Linked DNA regions of Homo sapiens: regions 1, 3, 4, 5, 6 and 7 are each linked to region 2. The links come from fine-mapping of genetic effects on gene expression. A gene starts in region 2. Each other region holds a variant in brackets. All regions are shown on one strand. Distances are from middle to middle.

Region 1 (4,067 bases), 65 kb after region 2:
ATAATACAGAATCCACCTTTTGTGGCTGGTTTCTTTTGCTCAACATTATGTTTTTGAGATTCATTCATGTTGTGTGGAGCTATAGTTTGTTTACTTTTAATTACCATGTGGATTTCATTCTATGACTATTCCACCATTACTCTACTGTTGATGGATATTTGGGTTGTTTCTGTTTTGTTTTTTGCAACTACAAATAGTGCTGCTGTTAATATTTTTGTACACATCTTTTGATGGATATATTTACATACCTCTGTTGAGTATATATCCAGGAGTAGAACTGTTGAATCACAGGGTAAGTGTATGCTCAGCTGTAGTAGATATTGCCAAAGAGTTTTTCAGAGTAGTTGTATCAATTTATACTTTCACCACCAGTGCACAAGTGTTCCAGTTGCTCTATATCATCAGCAATCCTTTGTAATGTCTTCTTTAGTATAACCATTCTAGTGGATGGATATCTTTGCAAACAAGGTATTCAATTCACCATTGTTCATAACAGCAAACAAAATGAAACAATCCTGGAAGTGTTTAATGACATGAAAAGATGCTTATGACATACTAAGTTAAAATAAATGTATAAAACTCTATAAACCCATTTAAAAAAAAAGCAACAGAAAGAAATCTATACATCGCTCTCTTCTTTACCTTCTATCTGTATATATCCTTAGCATGCTCTGTTTCCTCTGCTTGAAATGCTTCTCCCCCAATTATTTTCATAGATGCTCATTCCTATATTTCAGGTCTGGTGTATCATATACCTGTTGACCATTTGTATGTCTTCTTTTGAGAAATGTCTATTCAGATGTTTTACCCATTTTTAGATCTGATTATTTGGGGTTTTTGCTATTGAGTTGTTTGAACTCCTTATATATTCTGATTGTTAATCCTTTGTCAGATGGGTGGTGTGCAAATATTTTCTCCCATTCTGTAGGTCATCTCTTAACTTTGTTTTGCTGTGCAGAAGGTTTTAGCTTGATGTAATTCCACTTGTCTGTTTTTGCTTTGGTTGCCTGTGCTTTTGAGGTCTTACACAAAAAAATCCCAGACCATGCCAGGCGCAGTGGCTCACGCCTGTAATCCCATCACTTAAGGAGGCCGAGGTGGGCCATTCACTTGAGATCAGGAGTTCAAGATCAGCCTGGCCAACATGGTGAAACTCTGTCTCTAATAAAAATACAAAAATTAGCCAGGCATGGTGGTGGGTGCCTGTAATCCTAGCTACTTGAGAGGCTGAGGCAGGAGAATCGCTTGAACTCGGGAGGCAGAGGTTGCAGTGAGCTGAGATCGTGCCACTGCACTCCAGCCTGGGGGAGAGAGTAAGACTTTGTCACAAAAAAAAGAAAAAAAAAATCTGAGACCAATGTCCTGGAGCATTTCTTCACTATTTTCTTCTAGTAGTTTTATAGTTTCAGGTATTAGACTGAAGTCTTTAATCCATTTTGATTTTATTTTTGTATATGATGAGAGACGGGGGTCTAGCATCATTCTTCTGCATATGGATATCCAGTCTTCTCAGCAACTTTTATTGAAGAGACTGTCCTTTCCCCATTATATGTCTTTGACACCTTTATTGAAGATGGATTGGCTGTAAATGCATGTATTTATATCTGGGTTCTCTATTCTGTTCCATTGGTCTATATGTCTGTTTTTATGCCAGTACCATGCTGATTTGGTTACTATAGCTTTGTAGTAAACTTTGAAGTCAGGTAGTGTGATGCCCCCACTTTGTTCATTTTGCTCAGGATTGCTTTGGCTATTCAGAGTCTTTTGTGGTTCCATATAAATTTTAGTATTTTTTTCTATTTCTGTGACAACTGTCATTGGTATTTTGATATGGATTGCATTGAATCTGTAAATTGCTTTGTGTAATATTGTCATTTTAACGATATTAATTCTTCCAATCCATGAGCATGGAATATCTTTCCATTTTTTTGTATTCTCTTCAATTTCTTTAATCAGCATTTTATAGTTTTCTTTGTATAGATCTTTCACTTTTTTGGTTACATTGATTCCTACATATTTTATATTCTTTGTAGCTATTGTAAATGGAATTGATTTCTTTTTCAGATTGTTCACTGTTTATGTATATAAGTGCTACTGATTTTTGTATGTTGATTTTGTATTCTACAACTTTACTGAATTTGCTTATCAGTTCTAACAATTTTTTGGTGGAGTCTTTAGATTTTTCTAAGTATGAGATCATGTCATCTATAAACAAGGCTAATTTGACTTATTTCTTTCCAATTTGGATGCCCTCTATTTCTTTCTTTTGCCTAATTGCTTTGGCCAGGACTTCTAGGACTATATTGAATAAAAGTGGTGAAAGTGTACATCCTTGTCTTGTTCTAGATCTTAGAGGACAAGTCTTTAATTTTTCCCTTTTCAGTGTGATGTTAGCTGTGGATTTGTTGTATATGGCCTTTATTATTTTGAGATATGTTCCTTCTATACTCA[G/GT]TTGATGATCGTTTTTACCATAAAGGGATGTTGAGTTTTATCAAATGCTTTTTTGGCATCTATTGAAATAATCATATGGTTTTTGTTCTTGGTTCTGTTTTATGTGTTGCATCACATTTATTGATTTATGTATGTTGAATCATCCTTGAATCCCTGGGATAAATCTCACTTGCTCATGGTGAATGATCTTTTTAATATGTTGTTGAATTTGGTCTGCTAGTATTTCATCGAGAATTTTTGCATCTATGTTCATCAATAATAATGGCCTGTATTTTTCTTTTTTTGTTGTGCCTTTATTTGGTTTTGGTATCAGGGAGATGCTGGCCTTATAGGATGAGTTTAGAAGTATTCTTTCCTTTTCAATTTTTTTGAAGCATTTGAATAGAATTGGTATTAGTTCTTTAAATGTAAGGTTGAATTCAGTAGTGAAGCCATCAGATCCTGGGCTTTTCTTTGATGGGAAACTTTTTATTATGGCTTCAATCTCATTACTCATTATTGGTTTATTGAGGTTTTCTATTTCTTTTCTCTTTTTTTGAGACACAGTCTCACTCTGTCACCCAGGCTAGAGTGCAGTGGCGCAATCTCGGCTCACTGCAACTTCCACCTCCTAGGTTCAAGCAATTCTCCTGCCTCAGCCTCCCGATTAGCTAGGATTGCAGGTGCCCGCTGCCACAACTAGCCAATTTTTCTATTTTTTCAGTAGAGACAAGGTTTCACCATATTGGTTAGGCTGGTCTCAAACCCCTGACCTCAAGTGATCGGCCCACCTTGGCCTCCCAAAGTGCTGGGATTTTCTATTTCTTCATGGTTCAATCTTGGTATGTTGTATGCATGTCCAGGAATTTATCCATTTCTTCTAGGTTTTCCAATTTTTTGGTGTATAGTGGTTTATTTTTTAAATATTTATTTATTTATTTATTTTTGAGATGGAGTTTCACTCTTGTTGCCCAGGCTGGAGTGCAGTGGTGCAATCTCGGCTCACTGCAACCTCCGCCTCCCAGGTTCAAGTGATTCTCCTGCCTCAGCCTCCTGAGTACCTGTGATTACAGGCGCCTGCCACCACACCCAGCTAATTTTTTGTGTTTTCAGTAGAGATGGGGTTTCATCATGTTGGCCAGGCTGGTCTCGAACTCCTGACCTCAGGTGATCCACCCACCTCAGCCTCCTGGTGGTTTATAATAGTCTCTAATAATTCTTTGTATTTCTATGGTCTCAGTTGTAAAATAATATATATAGCTTTAGGCGTACCCCTTAAGCTCTTATTGTTTCTCTCATCTGTTAAATCGGAAAATTGCAAAATAAGGAGAACAATATTAGCCTAACAATGTTATTGTGAAGATAGAATGAAATACCGAATGTGAAAGTACAGTGCTTTGAAAACTGTGGCTCACCATACAAACGTGAGTTAGGGTTCTTGTGAGCAGATGACAGAGAATCCACCAGACTCCAGCTCTCTGAGACACCTGGCACATTGTCCCCTGAAATTTTACTTGCAAAATCAATTCAAATTGGCTTCAATACAGACTCTTCCTCATGAACTGAAAGTCAGCCAAAAGACACTGAACAAAGAGCCGCAGTGATTATTACCATCTCAAACAACAAGCCGTGTTTAC
Region 2 (4,067 bases):
CCCAATTCCCACCTCCAGCCAGCTCGCGCGGCTGGTTTTATTTCCTCTGGATGAATAACACGGGGCCCTGGTCTATCTCTAGGCACCAGAAAATCCACATCCGAGGATCAGGTTATCCCCAGTCCCACCCTTTGCAGGAAAAAACCAGGGTGTTGTTCCCCGCCCCCACGCGCGCGCGCGCACACACACATGCACGCGCGCACACACACACCATCTTCACAACCCTTCCAAGAGAAAACCTAGAGTGTGTGTCCGTTTGGGTCTGGGAGGGCAGGATACAGTTATTTCGGGGGCCCCAATCTTGCCTTTAGGCTCAGCTGGGAGAAGGCGGGGCCCCTGCAAGGCTGCCCGGGAACTTCGGCCCCGCGCCCCGCGGGAGGGCTAAGAGAGGGCACGCACACCTTTACCAGCTTCGGAACGGCCCAATTAATAACTAATTTGCTCAGATACCCCACTCCAAGTAGACCTGACAGCCAAGGAGGGACTGGCTTTCCCTCTCAGTCTCCTAGGCTAGGGGACTCCTTCCTGCGAGCGGGCAGAGCCCCCACTTCCTCCCCACCACCGCGCCAGGCGCCCCCACCCCGTGCCCGGAGGAATCAGGTGTCCTCCCGGGCATCCAGCCCCCGCGGGTCCCAGACACTTACTTCAGGGACAGACAATGGGAAAACTTGCAGCCAGTGCCTTGAGCCCCCGAGGGAAAGAAATGGTGCCGCCCCCTGGGACAATGAGCGGGGGAGATGGCGTGGGACAGCAGACACCCCCCAGAGAAGCCACCCGCCCAGTGACCCCGCAGAGCCCGGAGCAGCGCCCCGGGTGAGCAGGTGACACTCCGGCCGGGAGCTCCCGCAGGTGGCCGGTGGCCACACTGCAGGGAAGGGCCGGGTGCCCGGCCCGGGGTGGAGGCGAAGCGCGGCGGCGAGGTCAGAGCGCGGCGGCCGGCGCCGCAGCCGCACCCCCGGCGTCCTACCTTCATGTCGCTGATGATGGTCTGGAAGAGGCCTCCGAGCGCGCTGCATTCCTTCTCAATCACAGCCTCCATTTTCCCGGCTCCGGCAGGGCGAGGGCACACACGCGGGGCCGCTGGACTGCGCGCGGGGCCGGGGCTCGCTCACCCCAGAAGGAATTTCACCTTCCGAGAGACCCACCTCGGACTCGCAGCCTCTTCTGCAGCGAGGACGGGGTGCACCAGACCGACTGTTCTCTGCCCAAAATAATAACAGTAATTTAAAAAGCCAAACCGCTCTGTAGGGTATTCGCCTACAAGCAGCGCTCGGCTCCTGGCCTTAAAAATGCCGGGAGAAGACTGACAATCAGGCCACCACTGGTGCCCACTACGGAAACGGCAAAGCCCATCTTGATGCAGAGAAAATCGCCCGCTGACCCGGGGCCAGCGCCATTGAAAAACGCAAGATTTTCCAATTTAATAAATTTTTCTGCAATTAAAAAAAAATCGCCCAACAGCAGAGCGGGTCAGCTCGCGGCGTCCGGATCTGTTGCTCGCAGCTGCGGCCGCCGCCTCCTTTTCACTCCTGCGCGCCCGGCCCCGGCGCTCGCTCTGGCTGGGCTCCCGGGGACGTTCGGAGGGGCGCACGCGCGCTCGCGGCCGTGCCCGCCAAGCGGAGGCGCGCTCTCGCGGCCGTGCGGCCGCCGCACGCGGGCGGGGCTGGGAGCGCGCGCCCGAGAGGCGCGTGGGGCACCCGCCGCAAAGAGGAGCCTGCTGGTCTGCTGGCGGGCAGGCGGCGCTGGGCCGGAGCCTCTCCCTCCGGTGCGCACAGCGCACCCTCTCCTCCCCCGGCCGCCCGTCGCAGCGCGGAGAGGGCGTGTCGGCACCCTGCCTGGCGAGCGCCCACCCCTACAATGGCTGCGAGCGCGCGGGACGGAGGGTGCACCGCCGCTCCCCGGGGACTTGCACGGGTGGCGCGCCTAGCCCAGAGCCCGCTTGTAGTGAGCGCTCAGTAGGGCGGGAAAGCTGCTGCCGCTACTGCGGCCTTCTGAGAAGACGCCCATTCTCTGATGTCAGGACTGCATCGCCGAGTCCTGATTGCAAATAGCGAAATATATAATTAAGGAGAGTTCGGGGGCGTATCCTGCAATGGGATGCCGAGTTCGATAAAGTTGCAGGATGCTGGGAAAGTGGATTGATTTGCTGTTGCTAAATGAATGGAAACAGCGTTAGAGCTTCTGTCCACGATCCATCAGTCTATCGAGATTGCTGATTGCCTATGACTTGGACGGTTGATGGTTTTCAGGCCCACTGAGAGCAGCCAGCGTTGGTATAACCGCAGGGAGCCCTCCTGGGAGGTTGAACCTGCAGAGCGCAAATGTGCCCAGGTTGATTTGGGGCCTAGTGGTCCATTTTCACAGCTCCACTGCCTATCTGCATAACCAGGAGCCCTCATTCAGATGAACGCCAAATGGGCCAGAGGGAGGAGAATCAAATGAGCAACTTTTAAAAGATATTAAGACATAGGCACCTAACTCCGGACAGTTCCTTTAACCCTTGAGCTAACCATTTGAAGCACAAAACATAACAAAAGAAAAGACTGGGGGGAGTGGGGCCAAAAGAAACCAAGTGCAAAATTCTGTACACTTGTGTCAGATTCACTCCGTAATGGGAAAAGGTCTGGCTTTGAAAACTTTATGGATCAAAGGGATGCATGGAGTTACACAGCACAGCTGCAGAAGATAATGTTCCCCTGGATCACTCTGCCCAACTCTTAACTGCAACCCACCTTCCCCATCCGTCTCCCCGAAATCACCCGGAAGGGTGTTACCTTCAGGAAGTAACTGATCTCTTGATCACCCCTGCTGGATCCTGTCCCCAAGGGCGTTCGAATGCATCCGACTCATCTTCACCTTGCCAATAACGGGTGCTTGACACATCGTTTGCTGCCAATCATTATTGTGATTTTAATACTATTGGTATTCTAACTATCAAGATGACTGCTTGTAGAGCCAGATTGCCTGGATTCAAACTCCAGTTCACAACCTACTAACTGTATGCCTTTAGGTATGTTACTTAACCTTTCTGGGCCTCAGTTTCCTCATCCATCTGTAAATGGGGATAATGATGGCTTCTACCTGATAGGGCTGTTCTGAACATTACATGAGCTGATCGATGAAAGCACTTCAAGTGGTACCTGGCATCTCGTAAGTAATCATTCGATAAATCTTATCAACAGAAGAAGCAGGGATGAGGCCAAGGCTCAGGTCCAGCCCTGGCCCCATTTCACTTCTGTAACATTGGTGTGCTGTCCCAGGCACATTGCTGAGGGTCTACTGTGTGCATTCTGGGCATTTTATACGTATTATGTCTACTTGAAGGAAATTATCATTCTGGTCCTTGTTGCACTGTTGGAAGGAATCCAACCCTGGTTTTCTGACTTCCATGCCCCAGGTCTCTCTTTTACCCAGCCTCCTGAACTCCTGGGATAAGGGGCCTTAGCCCAGTGGACACTTGGTCTAGCTTTCCTGCCACATGCTTAAATTTCAATGCCCCAAATACCCCAACTTTAGCAATGTTTGCCAAAGCATACCTCTCTTGTGGCCTTTTTCCCTGGGCCTGACCACCAGGCCCTTGTCTCTCATGAGAACTCCTTGAAAGGGAGGCTGGAAAAGTGTTCCCAGATGCAGGAAAGTGGGAGTGACACCTGGCAATTTTTTTTTTTTTTTTTTTTTTTTGAGACAGGGCCTCACTCTGTCACCCAGGCTGGAGAGCAGTAGCGCGATCTCGGCTCACTGCAACCTCCACCTCTCAGGTTCAAGCGATTCTCCTGCCTCAGCCTCCATGTTGGTCAGGCTGGTCTCGAACTCCTGACCTCAGATGATCTACCCGCCTCGGCCTCCCAAAGTACTGGGATTACAGGCGTGAGCCATTGTGCCTGGCCAGCTGTCATACATTCTTTCCTTGTTTTCAGATTCTCCTTTGTTTCTGGCTGTTGGGGACTTCCCTTCTTTTAGACTGGCTCTGCATATATTTAAAGAGATTCTGATTACATTTTACCAACTGTGTCTACGTGGCTATGGCAGGAGGGGTTTCAGGTTATAGAATCTGCCTCTGCGACAAT
Region 3 (4,067 bases), 46 kb after region 2:
AATTATACTTTAAGTTCTAGGGTACATGTGCACAATGTGCAGGTTTGTTACATATGTATACATGTGCCATGTTGGTGTGCTGCACCCATTAACTTGTCATTTACATTAGGTATATCTCCTAATGCTATCCCTCCCCCATCTCCCCACCCCACGACAGGCCCTGGTGTGTGATATTCCCCTTTCTACCATCGAACTTATAAAAGGACCTACGTATGTGTCAATTCTCTTCTGTTTTTTTTCTTGTTTTACAGTTTTAGTACAAAAAGGAGTAATTTGGTAGGAATCTTTTTAATGTATTGCCCTTGTACTTTGAGAGCACCAAATCCTGACCACTAGACCACTAGGGATGCTCCTTGACTTTGAGTATGTTTTGTCAAGTGCTTGGCATATGGTAGGCGTTCAATAAATGAACGACGACAATAAAATTGCGGCACGGTCTCGCCATCCTAGTAGCTAGATACAGACTTTCCACAGAACTTAAGATGATGGTGTGATGGCATTCTTAGCAATTCTGGACAACTCATATTAATTAAAACATTTCACTCCATGTTTATAAAATATTTCTCTTTATAAAAACATTAAACAAGTAAATATTAAACAAATGTTATAATTAAAGAACACACTTAGGGACTTCAAAAAAATTAATTAGATTTATATTTCAGTCTCTTCTCAGTAACTTTAATTCTCATGATACTTCATCTTTGTCTTCTTTTAATCCCCATAGAAATGACCCTAGTTTTGATTTGATTGAGTGCTACCTAGGTACCTGGTGCTGTCCACTCAATGTATGATCTCATTTACTTTTCCCCGGGAACTCTATGAGGTAAGTTCTATTAATATCTCCCTTCAAAGACACAGGAACTAAGGCTTTTTTTTATAAAGTAAATGGCTTTTCCGGCATCTCACAGCCAGATAATGTAAAATCCAGTCTTGGAGCCCGAGGTCATGTTCTATCATTTGTCTCTGCTTCCTAGGTTAGTTTATTACAGAAACTCTGTACATTTCTTTCAGATATTAAATTTTAGTTAAAAGTAAATTCTTACTGATTTTCCCTACTCTTACCCAAATTCAACACATACTGATTGCATATTTACTGTGTGCAAGGCATTGTGCTAGCGATAGTGTGGAGGACATTTAAATGTGCAAAAACTGGGGAACTCCTGCCAGGATTTTCTGCTCTAGAAATGAGCTGGGGATGGTAGAAACATTATTTACCTCACTGTAATACAAGACAAGACCAACTAAGGTGAAAACAAACATTCGTTGATATTCTATTATGTGTCACGAACCTTGGATACTTTATGTGCATGATCTCAGTTGATTTTCTGGTTTTATGGAGAAGGCATCAGAGGCCCAGTTTTCTTAATCATTTGCTCAAGGTACACATGTAGGAAATGGGAGAATCCTACTGTATTACTCAGGGTTCTCTAGAGAAACAGAACCAATAGAAGAAGTAGAGATATATAGAAAGAGATTTATTATGAGGGATTGACTCACATGATTATGGAGTCTGAGAAGTCCCCTAATTAGCCACTGTAAAGATGAAGGCACAGGACAGTTGATGGTATAGTTCCAGTCCAGGCCTGAAGGCCTAAGTACTGCAGAAGCCAATAGTCTAAGTCTCAGTCTGAGTCCAAAGTTCTGAGAACCAGGAGAATTGATGTCTGAGTGCAGAAGATGGATATCCCAACTCAAGCAGAAAAGAATGTGTCCTTCCTCCACCTTTTGGCTCCATTCGGGTGCTCAATGAATTGGCTGATGCCTGCACACACTGGTGAAAGTGAATCTTCTTCACTCAGTCTCCTGATTCAAATGCTAATCTCTTCCAGAAATACCCTCACGGACACACCCCAAAATAATGTATTACCAGCTATCTGGGCATCCCTTAGCCCAGTCAAGTTGACACATAAAATTAACCACCATACCAACACACCAGGATTTGAACCTTGGCCTTTAATGCCTACCTCAGAGATAAATACAAGTTCAAAGGGATGAAACATCACTTGAGTTTTAGGGGATGAGCAAAAGCATGATTGAAGGAGGGATGGCATTTGGAATCACTGAAAGATGGAAAGACTGAATCAGGGATCAAGTAGAGAGGGCATTCCAGTGGAGGAATAGCAATGTGAACAAAGGGTAGAAGCTGCACTTGAGCTGTATGTTGGAAGAAGGGTAAAGAGTGTATCGAATGGAGGGTAGGATGTATGCAAAATATGCAGGAAATATGCTTGGGGGGTGGCAGTT[T/G]GGCTTCCACCAAGGAAGACTTTCTCTTGATAGGTGATGGGAAGATATTAAAGGTGTGGGGCAGACCAGTGATGTAACTAGGGCTGCTTCTTAGGAAAATTAACTTATGAGCTTCAGGCTGACTCATAACAGATGTCACTCCTGCTGTCCTGGACTCCAAGCTGTCTTTTTTTTTTTTTTTTTTTTTTTGAGATGGAGTCTTGCTGTCGCCCAGGCTGGAGTACAGTGGCCTGATCTCGGCTCACTACAAGCTCTGCCTCTCGGGTTCACGCCATTCTCCCTCCTCAGCCTCCCAAGTAGCTGGGACTACAGGCACCTGCCACCACACCCGGCTAATTTTTTTTTTTATTTTTAGTAGAGACGAGGTTTCGCCATGATGGCCAGGCTAATCTCGAACCCCTGACTTCAGATGATCCATCGGCCTCAGGCTCCCAAAGTGCTGGGATTACAGGAGTGAGCCACCGTGCCCAGCTAGCTGAGGGTGGTTTAGACTAGGAGGTCAGCCACTCAGCTTTGTCTCAGAACAAATCACTGAATCCCGATATCCTGTCCTGACTCTGTTGGCCTCCATCAGCCTGAATTGTATTGCCCCAGCTTATCTCATCTATTCATTCATTCCAGTGTTTATTGAACTCCACGTGCTGTCAGACATTGTGCTTGGTGCTGAAACTACAGGAATGATACGCCACAGCCTCTCCCCTCCTGAGCTCACAGAGAAGCAGGGTGACACTTGATGGCAAAGTGATGAGATCAGTGCTGGGAAAAGCCCAGCAAAGTGCTGTGGAGACTGCGGCCCCGGGAAGTCTACAGGGAAGGCTTTCATGGCAGGAAATGTAGGCCTTAGCATAAGAGTTCAGTTTTCCATAAGAAAAAAAAATGGAGTGTCCAAGATTTACACCCTTTCTTGAAGGAACTAGAAAGGGATGCAGTGGCCCAGAGAGGAGGCAGTCTTCCCTTCATGACTCTCTGCAGGCTGAGGATAGCTGCTGAGGCAGCCTTGATTCTAACAGGATGCCAGCTAAGGACGGTACCAAAGTGGAGCAGTCACTCAGGGCCACAGCTGGGCCACAGGCCGAGGGGTCCCTACTGGGAGGGGAAGGGAAGGGTCCCAGCCAGTTGCCCTTGGCAAAAGGCAGGGGTCAGTCATGTTGGCAGCACATCAGAAATTCATTAAAATAGTTGAATGGACATAAGCATTCACAGTCTCTTGGCAACAAGACCTTCCTTCTTCCAGTTCTAGTCTGTGCCCAGAGCTGGGATGGATGGATGTGTGTGGCGTGGGTCAGGAGGTGGGGTGTTAGATGTACCCGTCTTTTGGCCTGGTTTTGGTAGAAATTCAGTGGCTGGGGTGGGGAAAAGGCTTTTCTCCTGCTGGCAGCAAGTTGGGTGACCGCTCCTCTCTGTTGGATTCCTATTCTCCTTGCTGCCTGGGGTACCACTCCGGGTCTTCGGGCTGGTCCTGCAGCTTTCACTCGGCAGACAGACTCTGTGTGCCTTCTGCACTCTGAAGACAGAGGACAGCCCTCCACAGTGACTTCTGACAGACATTTCTGTTTTGGAGCTGCTTCCTTTGGCATTTGACAAAGTCAGCAGATGAACACTGTTTTCATGGGTCCAAGGAATTTTGGCTCCCAAGGGGATTTTATAAGAGTCCACTATCTTTTGGTTGTTTTCCTTATTTTTAAGAATAATATGGGCCGGGCACGGTGGCTCACACCTGTGATCCTAGCACTTTGGGAGGCCGAGGCGGGAGGATCACGGGGTCAAGAGCTCGAGATCAGCCTGGCCAACATGGTGAAACCCCATCTCTACTAAGAATACAA
Region 4 (4,067 bases), 24 kb after region 2:
TGGATGCCGTGGGGTCCTGTTCGTTGCTGGCAGCTTTTTTTGGGTTGTTCATTTCCACTGCATAGCACTAATAGCTTTTTCAGACCTCTCCTGGGATGTGGACTATTTTGTATTTGTAAGACACCTTTATGGAAATGGCCTCCAGGTTTAAAGTGTCATGTGACCACTTGTTCAGTTGGAGATGACCGTGCCAAGGCCTCATTCATCGGAAAGTGAAAGTGCGTGGCCAGTAACTGTGACATTGAGAATGTCCTTGTGGCACTGGATGTCTCTGCAGGACTCAAGTGAGGCTGGTTGTATGAAATAATGTCAGGGAAAAAAATAGGGTTTTTTTTTTTTTTTTTTTTACTGATTCTAATGATTGTTCTGCTAGCACTTTAAAGGCGAGTGAAAGAATACAAAGGAAGTTCAATTGTGTGGCGACAGGCTAAGAAAAGAGGAAAGGAAGGAAGTGTTAAGTTTGAAAGCTGGGGGGTTTTGCCCTTCCAAAGCAGTGGCATGGGATCCACCCAAATGCCAAGTTCTCATCCTCATCGTCAGGGTAGCAGGCAGAGAGGGGTTTCCAGAACCATCATTTGAACCCTCACTCTGTGCCGGCCACCCTTTCACTGTCTAATTCTTATAACAGTGCTATGAGAAAGTGATGATTGACTTATTTTGTAGTTTGAAAAACTGACTCTCTTGGCCGGGCACGGTGGCTCACACCTGTAATCCCAGCACTTTGGGAGGCCAAGGTGGGTGGATCACAAGGTCAGGAGATCAAGACCATCCTGGCTAACATGGTGAAACCCCGTCTCTACTAAAAATACAAAAAATTAGCCGGGCATGGTGGCGGGCACCTGCAGTCCCAGCTACTCTGGAGGCTGAGGCAGGAGAATGGCGTGAACCTGGAAGGCGGAGTTTGCAGTGAGCCAAGATGGCGCCATTGCACCCAGCCTGGGCGACAGAGCAAGACTCCGTCTCAAAAAAAAAAAAAAAAAAAAAAAAGAAAGAAAAACTGACTCTTAGGGAAATGACGTGGCTTGGCCAATGCCACACTGCCCAGAGACTGAGTCATTATTTAAACTCAGGGTTATCTGATGCTAGAGCCAGGCTTTCCCCTTTCTGCCACCCACCTGCTGGCAACAGAAGGCAATCACATCAGTGACCATGGCAAGAAGGACCTGTTCCGTGTCCTCACTCTGGTAGGCACTGCTCTTTTGTCACTTAGGAGATTCTTCCAGCTGCTCTTCCTTGGTGTCCAGTAAGTAAAACTGACAAGAAACAGAACAATCTCTTGTAGCAAACTGAATTCTCTATGACATACAAACTTGAAGAAGGATGCCTCCAAAGATAGAGTAGCTGATGGAAGACACTATAAAAAGAAAGTCCCCTGTAGGGAGGAAGAAAGAGGCCGGAAGGAACTGGCCAGAGATGTGAATCACCCTGGGTGCTTAACCATGAAGAGCCTGAGGAGGCCCCTGTGTTTGTTTCCATGGTTCCCTACCCACCCAGCAGAACTCATTTCCTCTGTGGCTCTCCCTGATGCTTTGAGCGTTCCTCTCACTGCTCTGATATTTGTTGAGTGTTTCCACGCGATGGTATATAGTTAAGATTACGTTCTCATGCCAATAATAACACAAACACATGCAGTGGCTTAAACAAGACAGGGTTCATTTTTCTCTCATGTAAAG[T/G]CTACAGGTTGGCCATGCAGGAAAAGCATGGCGGCTCCCTGGTGTTGTCAGGGACTCTGGCTCCTACTTTCTGCTCTCCTTTCCTTGCTTGCGGTTTCTTTATTCAAAGTCACCTCACGGCCTGAGATGATACCTGGAGCCCTTCATAGGTTGGAAGAAGGAGGAAAAACAGAAGGGAGGAAAGGGGCCTTTCCCAAATGAATCACCTGCTTTTAAACAGCCTTCCAAGGAGTCCCAAATAATGCTTCTCCAAATACATTGGCTAGAATTTATTCACGTGTCCATATTTGGCTGGAAAATATAACTGTATTTTGGAGGTTGTTTGGCAGCAATGTGCACATCTAAAATTTTATGGGGACATACTGATGGAAGAATGGTTATTTTAATAGACAAAAGTCAGCAAACTGTGGCCCACAGGCCAAATCTGGCCCACCGCCTGCTTTTGTAAATAAACTTTTATTGGTACACAGCCAAGCTCATTCATTTTCATATTTTCTATGGATATTTTTGTGTTACAACAACAATTAAGTATTTACGATGATAGATGGCTTGCAAAGCCTAAAATATTTATTATCTAACACTTCACAGCAAAAGTTTGCTGACTCCTAGAATAGACGAACAGCAAATAGTAATTTGTGGCAAATACCCCACCACCAGGCACTGGGCTGGGCACAAAGGTTCATGGCTGTGGGTTCCATTCTTAGGTGGCTGATAGTCCAGGGGATGAGACACAGCCAAGTCAAATTCTAACTACAGTATTGTGTGACGAGTGGAACTGTTCCATTCTGTTTAGTATGTTATGGGACCACAGAGGACACCTGAAACAGACTGTAGAGAGGGAGGGTAGGCAAGCTTTCTAGATGAGCTTAAAGGATGAGAAGTTAGAAAAGAGAAGAGCAAAAAGAATTCCAAGCAGAGGAGAAAGCATGTACCAAGATTGGAGGTGTGAAATGGCAGTCATTATGCTTTCATCCCACTGTGTGTCATAGCAGCCCATGAACCTGTCTCCTCGAGAGACCACACATCTTTGCCTCCCCCAGGCCTGGCACCAATGTGTGCAGGGCCTCTTCCTTGCAGGGGCTCCAAACACTTGTCAGCTGCTTACATTGACATCATCCGCAATCCTGTTACAGTAACGCCTATGGGTACCAATCCACTGACCCAGAATTTAGAGTGGGTGGGGATAGAGTGGAGGGACACTGAGTTCCAATTCCAAGCTTAATTATCAACAGATAAAAGCAAGGGCTTTGGATGAAAATCTCAACCACTACTACTTCGTACCTTGCATAAGCTTGGACAAGTTGCTTAACTTTTCTAAGCTTCATTTTTCTTCATCTATAGAAGTGAAGATAGTGTCACGAGCACGTATAAGTTTTCTCAATCTCCATGCTATCGGCACTGGGGGCTGGATAATTCTTTGCTGTGGAGGGCTGTCCTGTGCATTGCAGGATGTTCAGCAGCATTCAAGGCCTCTACTCACTAGATGCCAGTAGCAGCCCTGGAGCTATGACAATCAAAACTGTCTCCAGACATTGCCAAATGTCCTTGGGGGAGCAAAATCACCCCTGCTTGAGAACTTATCAGCTAGTAGTAGAATTAAATGAGATAATGTTTTATATGTGTGTTTAGTAAGTGTGAAAACTATTTTTATTGTCTTCATTAGTACTCAGAAAATATTTGAAAGGACAAATGAACTCGTGGAAGAAGAATGAAAACCTCATAGAAACTATTTCTTGTTTAGGCTGGCAAACACAGGAAAGGAATTCTTAGCTGTGATAAACAAAATTTGCTGTTAAACCCACCTGTTGCAAATCCACATTATGTTAGGAATGTTGGCTGAATTACTTTCAAATGAGCTGCAGGGGACATCTGTTATAGTTTTATTTTTTATTTTTTTGAGATGGAGTTTTGCTCTTGTTGCCCAGACTGGAGAGCAATGGCACAATCTCGGCTCACCGCAACCTCCACCTCCCGGGTTCAAGCGATTCTCCTACCTCAGCCTCCTTGAGTAGCTGGAACTACAGGTGTGTGCCACCACGCCTGGCTAACTTTTGCATTTTTAGTAGAGATGGGGTTTCTCCATGTTGGTCCGGTTGGTCTCGAACTCTCGACCTCAGGTGATCTGCCCGCCTCGGCCTCCCAAAGTGCTGGGATTACAGGTGTGAGCCACCACACCTGGCTGGACATCTGTTATTTTGTTGCCTATTTCTACCTTGCTTGATTTAGGTTTGGGGAAAACACCTACCCCCACTTTCAGCCATGTGCTTTGCGTGAAGCTGACCTCTACATTGGTTCCAGTGGTGAATCACTGGAGTAAGGTCCAAGTCACCCAGGGAAGTCCTTTCTCCGGCTCACAGTGGTTAGTCTGAGAGAGGGAACAGGCTTGAGCCAAGG
Region 5 (4,067 bases), 99 kb before region 2:
ACAACAACAACAGCAACAAACTAGCAGTGATGAAAAGTACAGAGCAGGTCAGTAATACAAACAGAAACCAAAAGTTTGCTGAGAACGGGTGCTTCCCATCCCAGGCTGCGAGTCTGAGCTCCAAGACATCAGCCGCGTCAGTCTTATCATCCGACTCCCAGATCATACTCCCCAGGACACGGCACCAATTATCTCTTCCAATTAAACCACCGCCACAGGATGCTAAATCCAGTGATATGAACCGGCAGCAGGATGCTTGCCCAGCCCAGGGCTGGCATTTATGATCCTTATTAGCAGGAAAGCTCTGTCTTCTGCTCCCCACGGCTCAGCTGTGGAACCTGGAGCTCCCACCAGCCCCCACAGCAGGTGCTCTGGGAAGGGGCAGAAGAAAATGATGGCAGGACTTGGAGAAGCCAGGACAGCAGAGTCAACAGTTCCAACTCCATTGGGGAACTTTCCCCATCGATGACAGCAATTTCCCTAACATCTAATTATAGGCATTTTGTCAGCTAAATAATAAGTTGCATGGATTAAATGCCTACAGTGAGCCAGGAACTCCAAGAAGTACCTTGTGTAATTTCATCTAATCCTCGCAACAACCCTCTGAGGCAATTCTTCATTGCCCATCCTCATTTTAAAGATGGGGAAACTGAGGCTAAGAGAAACCTGCCATAGGTGGGTAGACCTAGGACTCAAAGCCAGGTGGTGTCTAGCTCCGAAGTCTGCACTTCTTCCATTACACCACAGCAGACCCTGAAAGTAACACACACGGATTTTACAGGATCCCAAAGTATCTTCAGGGAGGTTTTATTTCCCAAGAGGGTCCTTGGGGCAGGAGGGAAATGAGTTAATCATGAGAGCTCACAAGTGCTGGGCACTCATGAGCCAGGCCTAGGCCTAAGCTCTGTGTACACATTCATTCATTCATTCATCTTCATTCTTTCAACAGCCCTGTGCATAAGCACTATCATCACCCCCATTTTATAGATGAGAAAACTAAGGCTCGAATTAAGGAGATTAAGCCACTTAAAGTTACACAGCTAAGAAATTCTGGAGCTAGATGGCCAGGCGCGGTGGCTCACACCTGTAATCCCAGCACTTTGGGAGGCTGAGGCGGGCGGATCACAAGGTCAGGAGATGGAGACCATGCTGGCTAACACGGTGAAACCCAGTCTCTACTAAAAAAAATACAAAAAATTAGCCAGGTGTGGTGGCGGGCACCTGTAGTCCCAGCTACTTGGGAGGCTGAGGCAGGAAAATGGCGTTAACCCAGAGGTGGAGCTTGCAGTGAGCCAAGATCACGCCACTGCACTCCAGCCTGAATGACTCCGTCTCAAAAAAAAAAAAAAAAAAAAAGAAAAGAAAAAGAAAAAAGAAATTCTGGAGCTGGATACTTAGCTATAGCGGTACCTAACTCTGAAGCCCGAGATCTGACCTCTCCCTAAAACAGACCTGAAACACGAGTTCCCACATCCCTGGTTGGTGAGACAGCCAAGTGCCTCCAACGTTAAGTGGCCTCCTGTCCTGCTGGAGGCTGGACAGGTAGTTTCCATCGTAACACACAGAGGCCACAGCCTGCCTGAGGGGAGGGTTCTCTCTCCCAGACACCACACCACAAGGCCACCCCCCTCCATCTGGGAAGAACCAGGGGCCTTTCCAAAGTGAATCATCC[G/A]AATAACCAGTCTTTATCATTTTAACTGTCATCTTTTAAAAACATATCACACACACCGTGCGTTCTTAAATGGAGCTACTGCCCAGTGGCTGCTGACTCATCACCCTGTAAAGAATTGAGTCGCTGAGGACAGATGTGGCAAGGCCAAGCCAGCTGCGTCAGCCCCGCTTGCTTAATCCTGTCTGAAGCTTCTTGAAATACTTCACCTGCTCCATGGAATATAATTCATCTTGTAAAATTGCTTAAAACTTTTAGACCAAAGGCATTTACATTTAATTAAATGACCAGGGAGAGTTAACTTCCCTCTACCTCCCCTGGAAGAGGTCACCTTCAGAAGTGACCTATTTCCTCCCTGAGCCCAAAGAGGTTGTGGACCCTAAAGGGCCCCAGTCTAAGCCCACCCCATGCCACTGGGCTGAATGGGGGCCACCACATCTTTTGGCAAGCCATCCATCAACAGAGTCACCAACAGGCAAGCAGCCTGGGCTACCCGAGCAGACTGTCAGCCACATGGGAGGAAAGGTGGGGGTGGGGTGGGAGCAGGAACAGAGGGGAGGACCTGAAAGAGGAGGTGGAGAAAGGCTGGGAGGAAGAAGAGGATGAAAAAGGCCACTTGTGACTCAGGGGGCCTATGGGCCAGCAGCAAGATCATGGAGCCCCAGCACTGCCTGACCCACTGCATCACCGCCCACATTTTTAACAAGGCTCCAGGCCATTCACAGGCACTGGACAGTTTGAGAAGCACTGGTCTACAGCACAGGCTTTGGAGTCAGAAACATCCGGGTACCAGCCCCAGCCACACTACTCACTTTCTATGTGACCTACAATGAGCTACATAGCCCCAACCTGCCTCCACTGTCTCATTTGTAGGGCAGTACCTACTTACAAGGTGGTTTTAAGAGGAAATTAAAATAATGCAAATAAAGTACTTAGCACAAAATCTAATACAAAAAAAATGACCAGCTGGCTCTGCTATCAACACATAAAGCTTAGAACCCAAGTCACCAGATTCTGCCTCTCATTACTTCTCATCATTATGGAAACCTTTGGAGGCCTTTGGCCATGGCATTCTGAACCTGCTTGGTATATTGCAATGCTGTGCCACCTACCAGCATGTTCCTAAATACACATGTATTTAAGGCAGCATCATCACTGAGATAAAAAGTTACCAACTACACCTGGAGCCAGAAACATGTGTATAAGAAAGGGAAAATAAGGAGGACTGAGAGCACTTGAGCATTTCATTGGCCTGCACCCTGAGGATTCGCCCTTGAGCCTGAAACATACACGCAGCACAGAGGTCAAAGGCAAAGAGTAAGGAATCAGCAGCTTTGGGAAGGTGGGGCACGGGGACAGGCCAGGTCTCCTGGACTCGGATTCCAGGCACGCTGCCACAGCTGGGTGCTCCCGAGGACAGCACAGACAAAGGTCACTACCTTGACCCACCAATCTCCCTAATGACACAAAACGCCCTTTACTTCCAGAGCCAGCAAACACAGCAACCTGATTTCACAAGACATGAGCCCTTCTGGACCCTAAAGAGTACGTCCACGTGCTAGGAAAAGACGAGCGCTACACGACAGTCCCGACACTGCTGCACAGCTCAGACCCTGTCCTGGCCCGCAGGCCACTGCCTCCTCAGAACTCTCCTTTTCCTCCATGCTCCCAGGCTTTGTTGGTGACCTCACCGTGCACCAGACCTTAACTCCTGGTCAATGCCACCCTGCCCCTCATCTCATCCTGAGTCTGAGCATCTCTGGCACTAAAATTTCTCTGATCCCCTCCATAGTCCACTCACTTCACTCCCAAAGCCACCATTCAGGTTCTGACTATGAAAGCCCTCGGGCCTGCCAGCTTCTGTCTCTCCAATTCAAACTGCTTTTAGCACCACTGCTTAGCCAACCTCCTACAGCGGGTCTGATCCCATTGTGCCTTGGGTGGCTCTCCACTGCTTACAGAATCACACCCACGGCCCTCCAAAGGCAGAGGCAGCAAAGCTCAGGCTTCCCCCACTGCCTGTCCACCCACTCGGCTCTTCCACTGCAGCTACTGGAATAACAGATCTGAGCTTTGGGCCTGCTGCTGATGATGGTGGTTGTGTCATTTGGTTTTTAACAGAAAGCAAAGAGAAAGAGGAGAAAAGTTAAGGAGCATCCGGGTGCAGTGGCTCATTCCTGTAAGCCCAACACTTTGGGAGGCCAAGACAGGAGAATCGCTTGAGCCCAGCAGTTTGAGACCAGCCTGGGCAACATAGCGAGACTCCATCCCTTCAAAAAAATTTAAATAATTAGCCAGGTGTGGTGGTGCATGCCTGTAGTCCCAGCTACTTGGGAGGCTGAGGCAGGAGGATCCCTTGAGCTTAGGAGTTCAAGGATTCAGTGAACTATGACCATAA
Region 6 (4,067 bases), 33 kb after region 2:
CGGTAGTAGCACTTTGGCCTAGTAATAAACATCCAACTCTTAGCCTTTTTATTACACTGCTCTTTCAAAGAAGCATTTAGCTAATGTTATCAGAGAGAGGGGCCTGTTTCCCCTCAGAATGCCTCTGAGGAGTACCTTTTTATTGCCCAGGGGTGGAACATTCTCAGCTTCAGCTGTAAATCATAGAGTTGCCAACTTTTATTGAGCTCTTTGCAGGGACCAGGCCATGGGCTCAGGGCTCAGGGCTCAGGGCTCAGGTCTTTCCTGATTCTCTCATTTCATCCCCACAGTCACCCTATGAAGTAGGTGTTATTATTCTCATTTTACAGATAAGGAAACTGAGTCAGAGCTGTTAAGTAACTTGCCCAAGATTACATAACTAGTAAGTGGCAAAGCCAGGACTCGAACTCACACCCCAGGGTATCTGACTGCTAACCTGTTGTATTAGTCCATTCTCATGCAACTAATGAAGACATACTCGAGGCTGGGTAATGTATAAAGGAGAGAGGTTTAATTGACTTACAGTTCCACATGGCTGGGGAGGCCTCACAATCATGGTGGAAGGTGAAACGAACGTCTTACATGGCAGCAGGCAAGAGGGCATGTGTAGGGGAACTCCCCTTTATAAAACCATCAGATCTCTTGAGACTTATTCACTATCATGTGAACAGCATGGGAAGAACCCGCCTCCATGATTCTGTTACCTCCTACCTGGTCCCTCCCACAACACGTGGGGATTATACAATTCAAGGTGAGATTTGGGTGGGGACCCAGAGCCAAACCATATCACCCGTGTTGCTAACTCTCACACCATACTCCCTTAGCCTTGTGTGATGAGCTCTGGACTAGGTGCTGGGCACAAAGACCTGGGGACCGAGCCTCGTCTTTTTTGTGGGCGTTTATGCTTTTCTATGTTCACTGAGTGCTTACTGTGTGGTCAACACCATGCCCAACAGTTTTTATTGATTTATATGCATTTTCTAATTTAATCCTTAAAGCAAACCTATGAGGAAGTACTATTGCCCCTACTGTCTTTGTGAGAAGGTCAAGCTACTCACTCAAGGAGAAGGTAGGATTCCAAGTGCAAGTTTGCATGACTCTGAAGCTTGTTCTCACCCAGTGGACCACCCTTACTGGAATCTAGCAGTGTAGACAGAAATGCAGATTCCTGGGTCAAACGCTGGATCTACTGAATCACAGTCTCTCGCAGTGGGGCCAAGAAATCTGCTTTTCTGCCAAATATCCCAGATGGGCGCAGTGTGTGTTATGTTTAGAACTCACTTCTCTATCATGATGCTGGCAATGTAGACATTCCATGTTTTGAAAATTCATGGATTGTACGTTTCTGATTTATGTACTTTCCTTTATCAATCTTATATCTTAAAAAGTTTGCTTAAAAAGTCCCCTCCCATGTAGGACACAGTCTCTTCACTATGAACACTTTGCTTCTTTGCTAGTCTATCTCACACGTCATCACACTGTTAAATTTCCAACTGTAATTCGCATGGGACACCACGGCGCACTGGGCCTGAAAAACCAGGCTATGAGAATGTCCTGGAATCACCTCCTTCCTACCTTAACGCAATCACACAAAGGTTACCGGCAGTTCTCATTTTCTTTTCTCCAGATAATTCCTCCAAAATAGATTACCCAAGTGCCTCACTCTGAAAACTTCCATCGTGTTCTCTCAACCCTGAAACCCAAATCAGTACAAAACGGTCCCTTGGGGCCATCCCTCTTGACTAATTCTCAAAGTTTCCACCACCAAGTTGTGGGGTGGTACCGGGAACTTCTCCTTTTGGGCTTATTTGGCCCATGAATCACTCTTTGACTAACCTCGTCAGCTGTTGTTTTCCCCGCAACACTCGGTGAGTGTTTTTCCTCCTCTTCCACCTTCCTTGTCTTCTTTTGGAACCTCTGTAGAACCTTACAACAGAAATATCTCTTAATCTTCAACCTCTATTGATTCATCCACTCATTTATTCTTTCACTTACCTATTTACAGACATTTATTAAGCATCCACATGTACCAGGAACTCTGCTAGGGGCAAGAATTTAGAAAATAAACAAGAATGTGGGCCCTTTCCTCAGGGAACACAGTGTTTCCAAGTCACTTTTGACAAATACTTCTGGAGCTGACTCTTTTAATAATAATGGTCTTGCTGTTGATGATATTTTTGAGCCTTTTCTTCATGGCAGAACCTCTAATAGTTATTTTAGATGTATTGCTTAATATTCTCAACAACTTCATGAGGTAGGTACCACTATTGTCTCCAAATAATACAGATGAGGGAATCGAGGCCCAGAGAAGTCGTATCACTTTCCCAAGATCACACAGTTCATAAGGGCTGAATTCTAGAGCTAATCTGGAGTCTGACCCCAGAGACAGGCCTTTTTAATTACCACAGGCTCTCTGAGCCCTACAAACCATCCA[A/G]TGAGAAGTGTCAGAAGTGCAAGGAAAATAGACAAAAGAGAGAAGAAGAAAGATGTTAAACAAGACTCTGGTGAGAACATAATTTTACCCTGGTTGACTCTGGATATAAGGGCATCTGAAAAGCACATTGGCTATAAAAGTGTGTTTCCAACAGTCCTAGAGCCATCCTTTCTAAAAGATAACATGTTCCCCAAACCATAGAACCATAAAATCTCAGTGTTGGGCAGGATCTTGATGTGGTATAACCCAAATCCCACTACATGCTGAATCTCTTTACAATCTCATCATCAAATCTGAAACCTGTCAGCCCTTGGCTTCCATTCATCTGCGTAAGTTCTGAGTTGTGGGAAAGTAATGGCAAAAACTGCAATTACTTTTGCACCAACCTAATAGCTTGATAGTGGTAATCATTTCCCAATGTATATGTGGAATATGATGAGGTTTCTCTTCAAATAATCTAATCAATCTTTTATTCTTTAATTTATAATAACGCCCCCCCCCCCACCTTTTTTTCCTTTTTCTCCTTTTTTTCCTTTTTGCATTTGTTAGATGCCCAGGCACGCCACAGGACAGGCATTATCAGTACCAGCTCACGTTCCTTTCCTTATTTAAAAAGAAGACTAACTTTCTAGCTCATTACACACACCCCTTCCCCTTCCTCTCCACTTTCTTTTACGTGCCCACCTTACCTAAAAAAATTCAAACGTTTAGCCAACTGGGATTATTTTAAATTATACAGCCTGACCCCAGCCAATGGGGAAAGAGTGCAGGGGCAAGACTTGCCGTCAAAAATAAAGGCTCTCGTGCCCTTTGTTCAGGTGGGCTCTCATGGCGACTAGCCAAGGAGGCACCCCTCTGCCCAAAAATAAAATTGCTTTGCTAAAAATCCTTTGTTCAAGTGTTCAATTTCCTTAAAATTTTTTAGCGTTATTCCTAACACATACATATTTCAAAAATCACATTCTACAACTTGAATATATACAGTTTTTGCTGTTTAGATTTCAGTAAAGCTAGGAACAAATGTTATGCTCTTTGGGATTTCTCACGTTCTTTGATTCATATGTCTATACCTGAGTCAAATTCACTTGTTCATCAGTTAAATCACAAAATACTATGTCATGGATCTTCCACATCCTCAGAAATACCACAAGTGGCAGGGGCTTCAATTCACACAGGCCAACAGTTGTCTCCTTCAAGGATCTCAGGTGCAAATGTCTTTGGGGTCAGTCAAGTTACATGAAAGAATGAAGTAGGCAGGGGGTAAGAACCGTGATGAACCAAACAGCACGCCTTCTGGACAATGATTGCCATGTGGTACTATAGGCTCCGTATTGCCAGATCTTTCAATTTGTCAAGAGAAGCCAGAAATCTAATTTTTTTTTAAATGTAAACTTTTCTGATTTTTAAGTGTTGAAAACAAATTCCAATTTTTTTTTTTTTTTTGAGGTGAAGTCTTGCTTGGTTGCCCAGGCTGGAGTACAGTGGCGCAATCTCGGCTCACTGCAACCTCCCGGGTTCAAGCAATTCTCCTGCCTCAGCCTCCCAAGTACTTGGGATTACAGGTGCCTGCCACCATGCCCAGCTAATTTTTCAATTCCAAATTTTAAAATCTGGTGTAGGCCACCATGACGTG
Region 7 (4,067 bases), 160 kb after region 2:
GCGGATCACTTGAGGCCAAGAGTTCGAGACCAGCCTGGCCAACATAGCAAAACCCCGTCTCTACTAAAAATACAAAAAATTAGCTGGGTGTGGTGGTACATGCCTGTAACCCCAGCTACTTGGGAAGCTGAGGCAGAAGAATCACTTGAATCCAGGAGGCAGCTGAGGTTGCAGTGAGCTGAGATCGCTCCACCGCACTCCAGCCTAGGTGACAGAGCAATACTTTGCCTCCAAAAAAAAAAGACCCATTTGCCAAATCAGTGGCAGCCTCCAGTGTGCCTGAGACCAAGCTAGCTGGCTCTAATTCAGATCCAACTTCTGACCCAGCAGCTACAATTGAAATAACACCTTTGCAGGAGTCCACTATCATCCCGCAGGATGCATCTAGACTTTGGAGGAGGCAGATGAGAGAATTAAGTGGAGTCATGGTCAAGAATCGCGCTTTTAGGCCTTTAAGGGTAGCACTAGTCTCTACTGTCCCCCCAGGGACACAGTATTAATTTAGTTAACCATGTTGGCTGTCGGGAGGTGGCAATTTCAAGAGCTTTCTCTTGGTCTTACCCACTACACTCGCTCTTACTTCACAAACCAAAGAACCAACGTGGGTGCTCAGTGACTTGCCAAGTATACCCACTCAAATTGTACATTTGGACTGGAGAAGTGGCCACTAGGTTCTTCTGTGGACCCCATGGAAACATAGTGAGCCAGACTCGATTTATTACCTGGTAACTCAGGTCCCAAATCTACCGGCAGGAACATGTCAACCCTTCAGGTCTTAAATATCAATGATATGTTGGACCCTATGTCCAGTAATCCTTGAAATATTCAGCTGTCTCCCTTTCCCCTGGGTGTAATTACCTGAGTAAATGGCCATAGATCGCTTTGGGAAAGGACTGGGGAAATCACTGCCAGATATGTTTGCCATGGTGTCGCAGGACCTTCCTCCTGGGTACTCGGCCTCTCTCTCAGTCAATGTGTTCTGAGTTTGAATATAGGCTTAGTTCTGAAAACTGAGCAAGGGATCTTTACTTTGTATTGGGTTAGCTGCCCTTAACGTCCTGATTGTATATTGAGCAGTATCCTCCAAGTCTGTCCGTCTCTCTTGCTCCTAAGTATGCCTTATTTTTTTTGTTTTGACACAGAGTCTCGCTCTGTCATCCAGGCTGGAGTGCAGTGGTGCCATCTTGGCTCACTGCAACCTCCACCTCCTGGGTTCAAGCGATTCTCCTGCCTCAGCCTCCCTAGTAGCTGGGATTACAAGCGCCCGCCACCACACCCAGCTACTTTTTGCATTTTTAATAGAGACAGGGTTTCACCACGTTGGCAAGGCTGGTCTTGAACTCCTGACCTCAGGTGATACACCCCCGTCGGCCTCCCAAAGTGCTGGGAACATAGGTGTGAGCCACCATGCCTGACCAGTATGCCTTATTTTTTTAGCCATCCCTGCTCTAGATGGGCCACCGCTAAGATGATCACCATCCTGGTTTGCAGAGACTGTCCCTGTTTTAACATTGAACATTCTACCTCCCTGGAAATCCCTCAGCCCTGGGAAAACCAGAATGGTTGGTCACCGTGGGCTCCCCCAAGCCCTCCTAGGACACAATATTACTTTGCCACTAATTATAATAATTGCATGGATCTTACTTCTGTTGGTTAAGCACTATCTGTCCTTTATTCTTTTAGGATTCTCTCATTACCAGGAACCCAGTTTGGTTACTACATCTCCTACCACTAGCTGTGGTCTTCAGAGGAGGGCTACCACTGAGCTTCTCAGAAATACCAGCACCCTAACACCAGAGCATTTCTTAGTACTTTGCTAGATAGAGTTTCCTCTCTGCAGGAGGTTTTCAGGCCTTAAAAGTATATCCATTCTAGCATGTCCTCTTCTCGGATATTTTGACTCCTTCCAAATCTGCCACCATGACCTGGCATTCTGTCACCTGGTGTTGGCTAGGCTTTCTCAGAGCTTCCCAGGACCATTCTAGCAGTATGGCAGCACCATCTTTCACAGTCCTTGCCACGATGTTAAATCCCACATTATGATAGAGTGCCCCAGTGCTGATAAGCACTACCTCAGCCAGCTTGAC[A/G]TTCTGATCCTCTGGACCCAGCACTCTCAAGATCCAGTCCTATTCCTTCTTGCTTCTGACTGTACGTGCAGACTGTGCAGACCATGTCCCACACCCAGCTCACTTGGTGGATAATGCTATTCCTTCCTTGCTGGACCCAGGACTTCCCTGTCTGAGTTACATTGTGACAAACCTCGTAGCTCCTGATCTAGTGCCAGGAGGGAGGTGGAGGAAAGTCCTGGGGAGAGAGAGTTACAAGGTAGAGGCCTCTGAGTCATCTTGTGAGCGTGGGGAGGAGAACCTGGAACAGGGAGCTGTGGGCTGCGTCTGCAGGCCCTGAGGGCTCCGAGTTATCTAGAGACATTGGCATAGATATCCCCACTGCATCTCAGGGCCCCATTTTTTCTCATTAGATCCTGACTTTGCCGCAGCAGTTCTGCTCTATTCGGGAATGTAAACTTCTTGAGAATCTGGCTACTTTTATGATTAATCCTGGTCCTTATCCTCAGCTCTATCTTCTCTCCTGGCTTCAAGAGTTTCTTGTATGCTGACAAGAGGCCCTCTGGCTTTCACATTTAGCCTTTAATTGCTGATAAAACACCTTCAGCCTCTTATCATTGAGGGTCTTTTTTTTTTTTTTTTCCTGTTCAAAAGGATCTGTTTTCTCCAACAACAGCCATCCAATTCTATTGTGTCTATACTACTCTGTCCACAAGCTTAGCCTGATCTATTGCTCCCACCTGGTGTACTATCCCAGTTCACCACTGGGGACAGTGTCAATTGCATTGGTGCACATGACAGGGACTGCTGTTGCTCTACCTGCCACCAGTGATGGAGTTCTCAGAGTCTCTTTCCTAAGGTCATTCCTGGCACCAACTGTCACAGGTTAGGTTTCTGGGGAAACGGACGTCGAGATGGAAACTCACTGGGGGAAGGGGGGAATCTCAAGATGAACAACCTCAGAAGGGAAAGAAGCAGGACTGGGCAGAGGGAGAAGGTGGCCTGTGTTACAGTTGCAACAAAGGCTGTCAGTGGATCCCACAGGGATCTCTGGAGCTGGGATGGCCCTGCCTTGCAGCAAAGGGAAACAAGCATTTATACCCCTTCATTGACCAGTCACTGAATGCAAGGTGCCCCAGGAAAGGAGCATAACCTTTAGCCAGGTAGCTCTCTTTGTGGGGTAGGGGTGGGGACACACGACACTCCCAGCATCTCTGGGCATGAGGGCCTCCGTCCCAAAGAGGAAATTTGGATAATGCATCCCAGCCTTGTGCCTATTGAATGTGCGGAACATGAGGGAAGGCAATATTGAGGACACTTCTGAATTTAGAACTGGCGAGATCTTCCATTTCATTCACTTGAACTAATGCATATTTGGTCACTGTGGATGTAATAGTGAAAAAGCCAAATCTCAACTCTAGAGGTGCTTCTGGTTTGGTGGGAGAGAATGGCCATAAAAAGATCAAAAGGCCAATAATGTGGGGATTGTTGGCTCTACCCTCTCATTTTATAGAAGAGGAAACTGAGTCTCAAGGAGGCAAGATGACTTGACACAGTGTCTAAAATGAGTTGACAGCAGGTATGAACTGGGACCCCAGCCTCGCAATTCTCAGGCTAGGGTCTTCACCCCAGCCCCACAGTGTCCCTGTTACGCTTTGAAATTGTTCAAGGTCACTCACATTTTTAAATGCAAACAAAAGAAAATAATTAAAGCTAGAAGATGAAAGATTCCTCACTGCAATTCAGGAAAACTCACTTTATAAGTCTAGATTTTCTATTTGAGTTCTCATCATTGATTCAACTTGGATTCCCCTAATGGGAAATCTAATCTAATGATCCATTCAAAGATATTTTCTACCATGTTACTGAAAGCTGAAGAACTCTACTGGACAGGTAGATTAAAGGGGTTTAATCTGTTGACTTTCAAAATTTGTTTCATTCTGAATACTTGGATGGGGGACTATCATTTTTGAGCATAGCCTATCTCTTGTTAGGAGAACA

Which allele goes with the higher level. Positions count from the first base shown, and alleles are read on the strand shown. Sizes are in standard deviations (SD) of each study's normalised expression. Not every link is listed here.
For the expression in subcutaneous fat of the gene that starts at base 1,557 in region 2, allele G in region 7 goes with a higher level than allele A (small effect, 0.15 SD a copy in GTEx).

The links. PIP is the estimated chance that this variant, and not a neighbour inherited with it, causes the effect. A credible set is the group of variants that fine-mapping cannot tell apart.
Region 1: its variant is the best candidate, but not a certain one, in a credible set for the expression of MTSS1 in whole blood (TOPMed, PIP 0.55).
Region 3: its variant is the best candidate, but not a certain one, in a credible set for the expression of MTSS1 in whole blood (TOPMed, PIP 0.55).
Region 4: its variant is the best candidate, but not a certain one, in a credible set for the expression of MTSS1 in blood mononuclear cells (TOPMed, PIP 0.82).
Region 5: its variant is the best candidate, but not a certain one, in a credible set for the expression of MTSS1 in whole blood (TOPMed, PIP 0.53).
Region 6: its variant is the best candidate, but not a certain one, in a credible set for the expression of MTSS1 in monocytes (CEDAR, PIP 0.85).
Region 7: its variant is the best candidate, but not a certain one, in a credible set for the expression of MTSS1 in subcutaneous fat (GTEx, PIP 0.53).

Annotation. Positions count from the first base shown.
Region 1 is chr8:124,792,292-124,796,358 of GRCh38, forward strand. No RefSeq gene overlaps it. Among named protein-coding and RNA genes, the nearest start is that of MIR4662A, 28 kb to the right of the region's middle. The variant G/GT (reference allele first, on the strand shown) is at 2,452.
Region 2 is chr8:124,726,917-124,730,983 of GRCh38, forward strand. It overlaps MTSS1 (MTSS I-BAR domain containing 1), which reads right to left and starts at 1,557. Exons shown (of 14, transcript NM_014751.6): 1 at 968-1,557. The coding sequence starts at 1,039. It overlaps LOC105375741 (a long non-coding RNA gene), which reads left to right and starts at 1,623. Exons shown (of 3, transcript XR_002956670.2): 1 at 1,623-3,150.
Region 3 is chr8:124,772,833-124,776,899 of GRCh38, forward strand. No RefSeq gene overlaps it. Among named protein-coding and RNA genes, the nearest start is that of MTSS1, 46 kb to the left of the region's middle. The variant T/G (reference allele first, on the strand shown) is at 2,245.
Region 4 is chr8:124,750,622-124,754,688 of GRCh38, forward strand. All of the region lies in intron 2 of LOC105375741 (a long non-coding RNA gene), which reads left to right. Among named protein-coding and RNA genes, the nearest start is that of MTSS1, 24 kb to the left of the region's middle. RefSeq lists an enhancer at 1,175-1,716. The variant T/G (reference allele first, on the strand shown) is at 1,674.
Region 5 is chr8:124,628,171-124,632,237 of GRCh38, forward strand. The region is part of intron 3 of MTSS1 (MTSS I-BAR domain containing 1); the gene reads right to left. Among named protein-coding and RNA genes, the nearest start is that of NDUFB9, 91 kb to the left of the region's middle. RefSeq lists enhancers at 116-175, 206-255, 1,429-1,478, 1,638-1,932, 2,139-2,208. The variant G/A (reference allele first, on the strand shown) is at 1,673.
Region 6 is chr8:124,760,302-124,764,368 of GRCh38, forward strand. No RefSeq gene overlaps it. Among named protein-coding and RNA genes, the nearest start is that of MTSS1, 34 kb to the left of the region's middle. The variant A/G (reference allele first, on the strand shown) is at 2,435.
Region 7 is chr8:124,886,093-124,890,159 of GRCh38, forward strand. No RefSeq gene overlaps it. Among named protein-coding and RNA genes, the nearest start is that of LINC00964, 54 kb to the right of the region's middle. The variant A/G (reference allele first, on the strand shown) is at 2,088.